Regions from separate parts of the Homo sapiens genome. Here regions 2 and 3 are each reported to be linked to region 1. The links are microRNA targets in miRTarBase. Many come from high-throughput screens and were not tested one by one. Region 1 holds a microRNA gene; each other region holds the end of a gene's coding sequence.

Region 1 (4,281 bases):
GGGAGCGGGAGACGGGGGCTGCCGGGGACAGGATGTCATACACGGTCTCAGCTGTGGCCTGGGGGACATGGGAGCACTGGATGAGGACAGCTGGCTGGGGCACACGTCAGCCCCAGGCCCCCAGGACAGTCTGAGACCCCACCAGCCCTCAGCCTCCCTGCCTGTCACTGTGCTGGCCTAGGGGGTCCTGCTCAGCCTCACTCCCCACTTCCTCCCACTCTTCCTCCCCTTCCTAGGCACCTGCCACTCTGCTGAGGGAACCTAGGAACGTGGGACTCCTCAGGGGACTTTCCTAAAGTCTTCTCAACCCAAACCTCTCTTCCTGCTGACCACCACATTCAGCAGGTTCCACATGGCTGCCGCAGCTGCACGCCTGAGACTGACCGCTCCTTGCCTGGCCCCCCAGACGCCCCTGCCAGATGGTCAGAGGCCCATCCTTCCTTCTGTCTGCCAGATCCTCTGCCCAGCATCTCACCTGGCATCACTCTTTCCCACCTGACTGAACACTCCCGGGGGCTCCCTGGTGCCCATGCATCCCTCCCACCTCCCCTGGAGCCCTGCCCTCTGTCCTGTTGGGGTCTGAGCTTGCAGGTTCCAGAATGCACCATGCACCTGCACTCACCCCTTAGCCGCCTAGGACCATCGATCCCCTACAGAATTCATCTGACAACTGCCCACGAGACTGGCTCCCCAGCTTCCCTGGGGTCCTTCTGGCCTAGCGAAGCGTATGGCCTGAATGAACCAGGGCAGCCTCTGCGCCTCAGATTCTTAGTCTGCAAACACAGCCGTCCTCCACCCCCCTTTACAAGACATGCCATGAGCAGGAGACACAGTGGGCTCTGAAGGCCTGGGGGGCACTCCCGCTCCTGCATGGGAGCCCCTGTGGGCCTCGGGAGACCTGGCTTGGAGGTCCCAGGCAAGTCACTTAGCCTCTCCGTGGCTGTTTCTCTATAAAGTAGGGCTGTCATACCCAGACTGCCCACTCTGAGGAGCTTTGAGGACAGAACCAGGGAGCTGTGGTGCAGAGGGCTCCAGCTGCTCTGTCCTGCACAGCCCAGATACAGGGCACCCACTCACCTGGATAGCCTGTACCAACCGGTTGCTGAGTTCCAGGGCGGCAGAGGCTGTGGATGAGCCAAAGGAGGCAGCCCCTCGCTGCAGCCCCCGCATGAGGCGGCCATCCTTCCTGTACTGCTCAATGGGCAGCCACAGCAGGTCCCGGAACCCTTGGACTAGGGGGAAGGAGCGCTCAGAGACACCCGAGGCTGCCCTGCCCCCACCTCCTCCTCTTATTCCCAATGGCAGCTTCTAGGTTGCCCAAGGGTAAAAGCAGTTTCGAGGGCTTCCAAACCTAGACACTCACAGAGCTGGACAACCGAGTGCATGGGGCCCACGCCTCCCAGCAGGCCGGGCAGCTGGTTCTTGCGGATGTCCTGCAGCCACTCGTTGAGGGCATAGCCCAGCACCTTGTCCACACCCAGGAGCCTGGCAGGGCAGGGAGGTGAGGAGGCAGAAGGTGAGGCAGAGCCACACATGGAGGGATTGTGGGGTCAGGAGGACTCAGTACCCCTGTGGCAAGTACTGTGGGCACTCTACCCTCCCTGTGGTCCCACCCAGTCATGTGCAGAGGGACTGTGTCCTTTTTTTTTTTTTTTAGATGGAGTCTTGCTCCGTTGCCCAGGCTGGAGTGAAGTGGTGCGATCTTGGCTCACTGCAACCGCCTCCCAGGTTCAAGCAGTTCTCCTGCCTCAGCCTCCTGAGTAGCTGGGATTACATGTGTATGCCACCACGCCTGGCTAATTTTTGTATTTTTAGTAGAGACGGGGGGGTTTCACCATGTTGGTCAGGCTGGTCTCGAATGCCTGAATGTGTGAGCCATCATGCCCAGCCAACTGCGTCCTTTTTACAGAGGAGAAACTGAGGCCCTGAGAAGGGTGATGACTTGGCCAAGGCCACACAACCAGTCAGGACCAGAACAGAAGGAAGATCAGGGACCCTGGAGAGAGGCTGGGGTGCTGGGGACTCACCCGTGCCTGCAACAGAGCCGCTTTAGCTTCAGCTCGGAGCAGTTGAGTTGGGCCAGGCCGATGAGGAGGCCAGCAAAAGTGCCCTGGGAGAGGGAGGGGGTCCAGGTTTACCCAATGGGACTCAGGGAGCTAGCTAGCCCATGGGAGCCACTGGAGAGCGCCCTGGCTGCTAACAGTGCCTGGATGCAAGACCTGGCCCCCAGAGGGACTCAGCCACAGCTGACCCCACATGGCCACCCCATCCGACCGCCCCACTTACCACCTGGTCCATCGTGACGTGCTTGCCATGGTAATCCAGCCAGATGGGGACCTCAGACGTGAAGCGGAACTCTCTGGGTAGGGGAGCAGGAAGAGGGGGTTCTTTGCTCACTGGCCTGGCCCCCAGCAATCTGGCCCAGGGCCCCCCACCCGCAGTCCAGCAGCCTACCTGAAGTAGATGGGCTGCTGGTCAGGAGGGGAGGGGCTGTGTCCACCTCCTGGGGCCTCCTGCGAACCAGTGGTCTCTACGCCTTCGGCCTGCCCTTCCAGGGGGCTGCTGGGCTGGGCTCGAGTCTCGGGGCGAGCTAGGGGAGGGGAGGTCACAGACTGGGGATGGGGCCAGGAATGACTGGGAACCTGTGCTGTCCTGGGAGGCAGAAGGCCCAGACGCTCCCCTCCCTGGCCCAGCCTCTCACCCTCAGCGGAGGTCTCCCCTGGGACCACGGGGTTGATGCCGGCCACCAGACTAGTGAAGAAGTCCTTGAGGAAGAAGAGGGCATCCTGCAAGGGAGAGGTCCAGATGTGGATCAGACTCAGAGGCCTGGAGACAGTGGGGTCACCCTAGGCTCTGCCCTCACGTAGACCACTCACCTGGTCCACATTGAGCCGCAGGGGCATCAGCGAGACGCGGAGACAGCACTCAGGCCCACCCAGGTTGGTAGTGGGGGCCACATGCAGCGCTTTGATGGTGAGCTGGGAGCAGAGGGTGAGTTCTGGACACCTGCTGGGCCTCTGGGGCAGCAGCTCACCCAGCTGTTCCCTGACAGCTCACCCAGCCACCCTGCCTCTGAACACGCTGTTCCCTTCGCTAACACAGCCCCTAGCTCTGCCCTTCTCCCAGGCTCACAAACAACCTGGGTGTTTGTGTGGGAATGCGTGTATGTGTGTGAATCCATGCATGCGTGAAGATGTATCCCCAACGGTCTGGTGCCCTGCCCCAGGGTGGATGGTGCAGGTCGCTCATACCATGTTAGAGTGGGCACGTCGCGGCATCCGCTCACTCGTGTGTAGGTACAGGAACTTGTTGATCTGGGAGGAGGCGAGCCGGTCTCGGACCTCCAGCTCCTGCACGATGAACACCTGACGGGACAGCGGTCGCTCCTCCAGCTCCTGGCTGGGGGCCGCAGGGCCTGTGGCTGGCTCCGCTGGGTACACCTCGTGCTGGAAGCTTACCTGTGGGGTGGACAGAGGCCTGGCCAGGTAAGCAGGGCCCCAAGAGGGAGGGAAGGGCTGGCCCCAGACCCCTTCTCTATTCTTTTTTTGAGACAGAGTCTCACTCTGTCGCCCAGGTTGGAGTGCAGTGGCGTGATCTCGGCTCACTGCAACCTCTGCCTCTCGGGTTCAAGCGATTCTCCTGCCTCAGCTTCCCCAGTAGCTGGGATTGCAGGCATGTGCCACCACACCCAGCTAATTTTAGTAGAGACAGGGTTTCACAACGTTGGCCAGGCTGGTCTCGAACTCCTGGCCTCAAGTGATCTGCCTGCCTCGTCCTCCCAAAGTGCTGGGACTACAGGCATGAGCCACCATGCCCGGCCCCTACCCCTTCTCTATTCTATGCCCAGCAGGGACCTGCCTCTCCCTCCAGACCTGACCCTGCTCTTGCTTCCCATGCCAGCTGCACTGGTCTCTGCCCCTCAAGGAGTCCAGGCCTGTTTTGCCTTCAGGACTTTGCTCTCGTAGCCCCTCTCCGTGGAGAGCCTTCCTTCCCCCTCTTCCTGCACACCCGCTGGCTGGCCATCAGGTCTCAGAGAGGCCCCTGGCCCCCTGCTCTGACACTCATCTCCCGCAGGTTCTTGCAGCACAGCCCACCAACCCGAGCAGCCTGAGGCCCCTCTGCCCTTTGCCTCTAGCGGCTCCTTGGGAAGCCCAGCACTGGCCTGGCTCACTCTGAGCAAGTGGGACCCCCCTGCCCCAGGCAATTTCCCAGGCCCAAACCTTGAACCCTCTGTACCACTCTCTGTATCTCACACACCCCATCCGCAGCTGAACCTGTGGC
Region 2 (4,140 bases), not on the chromosome of region 1:
TTTCACTGTGAGAGGCCAAGTCATGGCTATCGTCAGAGCCAGGTTTCTAGCCGTTTTAGGAAAAGTGTAGCTGAAGGTATAGGTTATTGTTGTGGTAACAACAGATCTCACTTCTGAGTGCCACCCACGTGCCAGGCTCTGCATGGGTGGTGTGGGCTGAGCTGGTGCCCGAGGCAGGAAGGAGCCACTCAGGACATGTGGAGCCATCTCTCACGTGGCTGTCTCCCTCCGGGCAGGATTACACCAGCGGAGCCATGCTCACCGGTGAGCTCAAGAAGGCACTCATAGAGGTTCTGCAGCCCTTGATCGCAGAGCACCAGGCCCGGCGCAAGGAGGTCACGGATGAGATAGTGAAAGAGTTCATGACTCCCCGGAAGCTGTCCTTCGACTTTCAGTAGCACTCGTTTTACATATGCTTATAAAAGAAGTGATGTATCAGTAATGTATCAATAATCCCAGCCCAGTCAAAGCACCGCCACCTGTAGGCTTCTGTCTCATGGTAATTACTGGGCCTGGCCTCTGTAAGCCTGTGTATGTTATCAATACTGTTTCTTCCTGTGAGTTCCATTATTTCTATCTCTTATGGGCAAAGCATTGTGGGTAATTGGTGCTGGCTAACATTGCATGGTCGGATAGAGAAGTCCAGCTGTGAGTCTCTCCCCAAAGCAGCCCCACAGTGGAGCCTTTGGCTGGAAGTCCATGGGCCACCCTGTTCTTGTCCATGGAGGACTCCGAGGGTTCCAAGTATACTCTTAAGACCCACTCTGTTTAAAAATATATATTCTATGTATGCGTATATGGAATTGAAATGTCATTATTGTAACCTAGAAAGTGCTTTGAAATATTGATGTGGGGAGGTTTATTGAGCACAAGATGTATTTCAGCCCATGCCCCCTCCCAAAAAGAAATTGATAAGTAAAAGCTTCGTTATACATTTGACTAAGAAATCACCCAGCTTTAAAGCTGCTTTTAACAATGAAGATTGAACAGAGTTCAGCAATTTTGATTAAATTAAGACTTGGGGGTGAAACTTTCCAGTTTACTGAACTCCAGACCATGCATGTAGTCCACTCCAGAAATCATGCTCGCTTCCCTTGGCACACCAGTGTTCTCCTGCCAAATGACCCTAGACCCTCTGTCCTGCAGAGTCAGGGTGGCTTTTCCCCTGACTGTGTCCGATGCCAAGGAGTCCTGGCCTCCGCAGATGCTTCATTTTGACCCTTGGCTGCAGTGGAAGTCAGCACAGAGCAGTGCCCTGGCTGTGTCCCTGGACGGGTGGACTTAGCTAGGGAGAAAGTCGAGGCAGCAGCCCTCGAGGCCCTCACAGATGTCTAGGCAGGCCTCATTTCATCACGCAGCATGTGCAGGCCTGGAAGAGCAAAGCCAAATCTCAGGGAAGTCCTTGGTTGATGTATCTGGGTCTCCTCTGGAGCACTCTGCCCTCCTGTCACCCAGTAGAGTAAATAAACTTCCTTGGCTCCTGCTCTTGTCATTGTGCTCTGTCTGGGAGGTCTGAGGAGGGAGCAGAGACCCCTCCCCTCACCCTTCTGTGGATGACCTTGAGTCTGCTGGAGTCAAAATTTGGGGATGAAAGCGCACAGTCCCAGGAACCCCATGGTGTTGTGCCACAGCTCCCAGGAATGGGCTTGTGCTGGGAGAGCCCTTAGCAGCATCCTGGTGCGGGCTCCCTCTCACACCACATTTCTCATTTCCAGCAGCTGATGGAGAATGCAAGCAGAGGTTGTCCTCGCTTTTCAGAGGAGGGGCTGGCCGTGGGGTGCTTAGTGGTGCTGTGTAGTGACGGGGAGCACAGGCTGGGAGCCAGGTCGGGCCCCATTCACATGAGGCCCAGGGCAGAGGCCGAGCTGCAAGGGAGCCCTGGGCTCATTCTACCGGCCCATCCTTATTTTGCAAGTAGGGAAACTGAGGCTTAGGAGAGGAGAACATGACTTGTCCAAGGCCATAGGGTGACTCTGATACAGCGAGTCTGTCCTGACTCTTGGTGCTTTCCACACACATACAGAGGGACCATTTTACAAATGAGGGAACTACGGTTCCCACCCTGGAGGCTGGAGGCCTGGGCTCGAGTCCCACTCAGGTACCCGGGTGCACCATGACCTCAAGTAGGCTTCCTCTCCCGGTCTCGACTCCTGCTGGCCTGGGCCCCACCCCTGCCCTCCCCTGCTCACCTGGCTGGCTATGGCCAGTGGGGGTGAGCCACCCACAGAGGCCACATAGCTCACTAGCCTGTTGCCTTGGGCAACTAATATGACTCCTCGTCGCTCTACTGCACCTGTGACGCAAGTGCAATGAGGGGTGACAAATGGAGTCAGTGACAGCTGCTGCTGTCATTGTCCACCCAGCCACAGCATCTATTGGCAGGGCCCTGGTGAGACCCTGGCCCCAGGGAGGAGTGAGCCAACACCAACCAGCTTCTCCCCTCACCGGCTGTGTGACTCTGGCCAGGTCACTTAACCTCCCAGGACCTCCATCTCCTCCCCTGTAAAAAGCAGTGATGCCTCCTGTTTAGGGTCTTAGGAGGGGTGCCCTGGGTCCAATACTCAGGTGACTTGCCCAAGGCCACTGCTGGTCAGGACACAGGGGAGCCACATGTCTCCCAAGCCTCCCCAGTTTTGCTAAAAACCAGTGGTTTCTGAGAGAAATGTTCCCTGAAAGACATGGGCGTGTCTGGATTAGGATGGACAGGTTGCAGTGGCCCCATGAGTGTTTGGGGATGAGGCATGAGGCCGGGTGCCTGCACCACCGTGGTGCCAGAGGCTCTGCCGGAAGAGCACTCCTGCTCTGGCTGGTAATGTCCACTTGTCAGACAGATGTGGGGCCAACCCAGCTCAGTCTCTCTGTCCCGTGGCCCCCAGCCTGGAGGAGAGACCAGCTGAGCCTGCCTGAAAGGAGATGGTGCCTGAGAAGCACACAAAACAGCACTGGGTGGGGAAGCAGGGACAGGAAGGAGGGTGGCTGAGCACACGGGTGGCTGTGGAACAGCTCGTTGCTCCAGGACGGCACTTGGCAAGCAACAGGCCTGCCTCTGGCCCCCAGTGCCCGCCTGCAGCACCAGCAGATGTGCCCTCCCCAGGGTCACACTGGCTGGGCCTTGAGGCCCAGGACTCTCTGGTCATTACCATAGAGGTTGTAAAGACAGTGAGGACAGCCAGACGCGGTGGCTTACACCTGTAATCCCAGGCTGAGGCGGGCAGATCACGAGGTCAGGAGATCGAGACCATCCTGGCTAACACGGTAAAACCCCATCTCTACTAAAAATACAAAAAGAAATTAGCCAGGCGTGGTGGTGGGCACCCGTAGTCCCAGCTACTCGGGAGGCTGAGACAGGAGAATGGCGTGAACACAGGAGACAGAGCTTGCAGTGAGCCAAGCCGAGATCGCGCCACTGCACTCCAGCCTGGGCGACAGAGCGAGACTCCGTCTCAAAAAAAAAAAAAAAACAGTGAGGACAGAGGCCTTTCCTGCAAACCCCCTCCCCAGTGACACGCAGAGCCAGCTGCTCAGTGACACGGGCTCAGGGAGAGCCAAAGGCCCCCACCTCCCAGAGTGCAGCCACTGCCAGAGCCGGGCCAGGAGTGCTGCCAGGAACCCTCCTGCCAAGGCCGAACAGGTGGGGTCTTCTCGACAAAAACGGTCCCGGGGTCAGTGTTTGATGAGCCATGGAAACCTGTCAGCGCCTGCCCTTTCCCGGCATTCGGCCACAACATCTCAGCCTCTGCAACTCCTAAGCTGGACACACTTCCTGGAATCTACTGCAGGACTTATTCATTCATTCATTCATTCATTCACTCGCTCATTCATCCCACACCCCCTACTATGCAGCAGCCCTGGAGCTAGATGGAGTCCTTGCACAGCCCGCAGGCTCTTGTGGCCGGGGAGAGGCAGATGAGTGACCACACACCCAACCAGGTCCCCAAGGGAGCAGAGCAAGAGATGCTTGGGAGCAGCCCAGTGGTCAGGCAAGGAGAGCTTCCTGGAGGAGGTGGCGCCTGGGGTGTGGAGCCAGCCAGGCAGAGCAGTAGGAGGGTATTCCTGGCAGAGGGCACAGGGCATAAGGTCAGGTGCCCACAGCACCACACATATGGGGACTGGCGTAACAAGAGGGGTTCCACCCCTTAC
Region 3 (4,140 bases), not on the chromosome of region 1:
GGAGGGCGGGGCTCGCTGCCCCCTGCTGCCGACTGCGACCCTTACAGGGGAGGGAGGGCGCAGGCCGCGCGGAGATGAGGAGGAGGCTGCGCCTACGCAGGGACGCATTGCTCACGCTGCTCCTTGGCGCCTCCCTGGGCCTCTTACTCTATGCGCAGCGCGACGGCGCGGCCCCGACGGCGAGCGCGCCGCGAGGGCGAGGGAGGGCGGCACCGAGGCCCACCCCCGGACCCCGCGCGTTCCAGTTACCCGACGCGGGTGCAGCCCCGCCGGCCTACGAAGGGGACACACCGGCGCCGCCCACGCCTACGGGACCCTTTGACTTCGCCCGCTATTTGCGCGCCAAGGACCAGCGGCGGTTTCCACTGCTCATTAACCAGCCGCACAAGTGCCGCGGCGACGGCGCACCCGGTGGCCGCCCGGACCTGCTTATTGCTGTCAAGTCGGTGGCAGAGGACTTCGAGCGGCGCCAAGCCGTGCGCCAGACGTGGGGCGCGGAGGGTCGCGTGCAGGGGGCGCTGGTGCGCCGCGTGTTCTTGCTGGGCGTGCCCAGGGGCGCAGGCTCGGGCGGGGCCGACGAAGTTGGGGAGGGCGCGCGAACCCACTGGCGCGCCCTGCTGCGGGCCGAGAGCCTTGCGTATGCGGACATCCTGCTCTGGGCCTTCGACGACACCTTTTTTAACCTAACGCTCAAGGAGATCCACTTTCTAGCCTGGGCCTCAGCTTTCTGCCCCGACGTGCGCTTCGTTTTTAAGGGCGACGCAGATGTGTTCGTGAACGTGGGAAATCTCCTGGAGTTCCTGGCGCCGCGGGACCCGGCGCAAGACCTGCTTGCTGGTGACGTAATTGTGCATGCGCGGCCCATCCGCACGCGGGCTAGCAAGTACTACATCCCCGAGGCCGTGTACGGCCTGCCCGCCTATCCGGCCTACGCGGGCGGCGGTGGCTTTGTGCTTTCCGGGGCCACGCTGCACCGCCTGGCTGGCGCCTGTGCGCAGGTCGAGCTCTTCCCCATCGACGACGTCTTTCTGGGCATGTGTCTGCAGCGCCTGCGGCTCACGCCCGAGCCTCACCCTGCCTTCCGCACCTTTGGCATCCCCCAGCCTTCAGCCGCGCCGCATTTGAGCACCTTCGACCCCTGCTTTTACCGTGAGCTGGTTGTAGTGCACGGGCTCTCGGCCGCTGACATCTGGCTTATGTGGCGCCTGCTGCACGGGCCGCATGGGCCAGCCTGTGCGCATCCACAGCCTGTCGCTGCAGGCCCCTTCCAATGGGACTCCTAGCTCCCCACTACAGCCCCAAGCTCCTAACTCAGACCCAGAATGGAGCCGGTTTCCCAGATTATTGCCGTGTATGTGGTTCTTCCCTGATCACCAGGTGCCTGTCTCCACAGGATCCCAGGGGATGGGGGTTAAGCTTGGCTCCTGGCGGTCCACCCTGCTGGAACCAGTTGAAACCCGTGTAATGGTGACCCTTTGAGCGAGCCAAGGCTGGGTGGTAGATGACCATCTCTTGTCCAACAGGTCCCAGAGCAGTGGATATGTCTGGTCCTCCTAGTAGCACAGAGGTGTGTTCTGGTGTGGTGGCAGGGACTTAGGGAATCCTACCACTCTGCTGGATTTGGAACCCCCTAGGCTGACGCGGACGTATGCAGAGGCTCTCAAGGCCAGGCCCCACAGGGAGGTGGAGGGGCTCCGGCCGCCACAGCCTGAATTCATGAACCTGGCAGGCACTTTGCCATAGCTCATCTGAAAACAGATATTATGCTTCCCACAACCTCTCCTGGGCCCAGGTGTGGCTGAGCACCAGGGATGGAGCCACACATAAGGGACAAATGAGTGCACGGTCCTACCTAGTCTTTCCTCACCTCCTGAACTCACACAACAATGCCAGTCTCCCACTGGAGGCTGTATCCCCTCAGAGGAGCCAAGGAATGTCTTCCCCTGAGATGCCACCACTATTAATTTCCCCATATGCTTCAACCACCCCCTTGCTCAAAAAACCAATACCCACACTTACCTTAATACAAACATCCCAGCAACAGCACATGGCAGGCCATTGCTGAGGGCACAGGTGCTTTATTGGAGAGGGGATGTGGGCAGGGGATAAGGAAGGTTCCCCCATTCCAGGAGGATGGGAACAGTCCTGGCTGCCCCTGACAGTGGGGATATGCAAGGGGCTCTGGCCAGGCCACAGTCCAAATGGGAAGACACCAGTCAGTCACAAAAGTCGGGAGCGCCACACAAACCTGGCTATAAGGCCCAGGAACCATATAGGAGCCTGAGACAGGTCCCCTGCACATTCATCATTAAACTATACAGGATGAGGCTGTACATGAGTTAATTACAAAAGAGTCATATTTACAAAAATCTGTACACACATTTGAAAAACTCACAAAATTGTCATCTATGTATCACAAGTTGCTAGACCAAAATATTAAAAATGGGATAAAATTATACATTTTTCTTCTCAGTTCTTTTCAAAAGGATTAATATTTTTAAAGCACATATATGCTACTTTCCATTAGCAAGACCCATGAAGGGACTGAGCAGCCCAGCCTTCCTTGAGCCCCCAGAGGCTTTGAGCCATGAAATGGCCCAGCCAGGGGCCAGTGCCCAGGGTTGGGGCAGAGAGCCAGCCCACAGTGCAGAACAGAATGCTGAAACACAACAAAAGTAGGAAGATGTCTTTGGCTAAAACTTTGGCATTAAATAAAAGAGGCAAACAGGATGGAAACATGCAGCCCTGCCAGCCAGGATGGGGCAGAGCAGGGGCACAGGCAATCTTGAAAGCTGACTCCAACAGGGGTGAGAACCAGGCCTGGGCATGTACCTGGATGGTAGAAAGCTGTGTTTCAACCAGTTTGGTGTGCCCAGGCAGGGAGCGCGTGCAAGAAAGGAACAGGGAAGGGCAGGTGGGCCACCCTGGCCACAGCCAGCTCATCAAGTAACTAAAGTGGATGTAGTGCAAATGTCGCAACCAAGTACTATGGACACGCTACCTGCTTGCCTTAAGGGTCATGTGGCAATGTGGAGCCAAAGGCAGGACCTTGTCCTTATCCTGGGTGCCTGTGTCCTCAGTCACAGAAAGAGCCCCAAGTCTTCCCAATGTGCATGGGACAAGGGTTGACCTCTCCTGCCTCCTTGTTAGTTGAGAGCTCCTGGGTCCAGGAATCAAGGCTCAAACTTTGTGCTTCTCTTTGCAGTCTGTGTCCCCTGCTGGCACCAGCAGGCCAAAGATGGACAGAAGAATATCTGGGCCACTCAGCCCATGGCAGAGCACCCAGCCTGAGCCCAACCTCAGAACATCACAACAGCCCTTCAGCACTGGCCAGGTGTCCAAGAAAACCCACAGGGTGGTACAGAGGCCCACTGAGCAGGATGTGATGCACAGTTCCACGGGACAGAGGGGCATGGGTGGTGGTGTCCCTAGGGGAGTTCCGCTGTTCTCAGGTGGCTACCAGGCCTGGGGGGGCCATACAGGGTCACCGAGGCAATGTGGTTGTTCTGCATGACCTGGTGTGAGAAGAGGACAGTGGGTCAAGGGGGAGAGGTAAAGGGATGTAGGCAGATCCTGTGCATGAGGGCTGGAGGTTGTGTGACATACCTGCACCTAATGGCTGGGTTTCCCGACTCCTCAACCTCCCCTGGTTCATGCTAAAGGCCCCCCTCTGCCTGAGATCTGCCTGTTTCTCAATGGTTACACACAGCCTTTACCATGGCCACGTGTCCAGTCCTTCTGGAACTGTTAAGTGTCTGCTGGAGATACTGCATCCACAGGGAAAACAAGGGCAGCTTGCTGTTCTCCCAAGTCAGCAGGGCCTCCAGAGCCACTCACTCCCCTACAATGCATTTGTTCACATGCCACTGGAGGGCCCCCAACACCCTCTGCTGGGCCCCACTTGCCCTGTGGTTCCCTTCCCTGCTATAATCATGTTGTCAGATAGAAACTTGGGATCCGTTACCTCCCATCTTGTTGGACACAGACCACTGCTTCGGCCTCTGTGACCCCAGATTTCTCAACATCATTTCTGAACCTTCATTGTTAAGTGTGGGGAGGCCAGGTATGCAGCAGACACGGTTGCTGAAGAAGGATGAATCTGCCCACTATGGCAGTGATGCCCTCCCCAATTTCCCTCCA

The links. Region 1 holds the annotated microRNA hsa-miR-6750-3p (GAACUCACCCUCUGCUCCCAG, at 2,979-2,999, opposite strand). A microRNA usually pairs through its seed, bases 2 to 8, with sites in the 3' UTR of a target mRNA and lowers its output. Matches are read on the target gene's strand: a 7mer-m8 pairs with bases 2 to 8, a 7mer-A1 pairs with bases 2 to 7 and ends in A, and an 8mer does both.
Region 2: miRTarBase lists WARS1 as a target of hsa-miR-6750-3p. Seed matches in the 3' UTR shown: 7mer-m8 at 558-564.
Region 3: the mRNA of PHAF1 is a reported target of hsa-miR-6750-3p. Seed matches in the 3' UTR shown: 7mer-m8 at 2,389-2,395.

The regions. Positions count from the first base shown.
Region 1 is chr11:64,895,385-64,899,665 of GRCh38, forward strand. It overlaps MIR6750 (microRNA 6750), which reads right to left and starts at 3,053; the gene lies at 2,979-3,053. ATG2A (autophagy related 2A) reads right to left here. Exons shown (of 41, transcript NM_015104.3): 32 at 3,252-3,458; 33 at 2,877-2,978; 34 at 2,702-2,786; 35 at 2,455-2,590; 36 at 2,287-2,359; 37 at 2,028-2,110; 38 at 1,364-1,485; 39 at 1,078-1,232; 40 at 1-58.
Region 2 is chr14:100,331,133-100,335,272 of GRCh38, reverse strand. It overlaps WARS1 (tryptophanyl-tRNA synthetase 1), which reads left to right. Exons shown (of 11, transcript NM_004184.4): 11 at 237-1,483. The coding sequence ends at 398. Among named protein-coding and RNA genes, the nearest start is that of SLC25A47, 9.9 kb to the right of the region's middle. RefSeq lists an enhancer at 2,277-2,326.
Region 3 is chr16:67,146,420-67,150,559 of GRCh38, reverse strand. It overlaps PHAF1 (phagophore assembly factor 1), which reads right to left. Exons shown (of 16, transcript NM_025187.5): 16 at 2,016-3,515. The coding sequence ends at 3,429. It overlaps B3GNT9 (UDP-GlcNAc:betaGal beta-1,3-N-acetylglucosaminyltransferase 9), which reads left to right. Exons shown (of 2, transcript NM_033309.3): 2 at 1-2,456. The coding sequence starts at 75. The coding sequence ends at 1,283. Among named protein-coding and RNA genes, the nearest start is that of B3GNT9, 2.5 kb to the left of the region's middle. RefSeq lists a silencer at 1-206.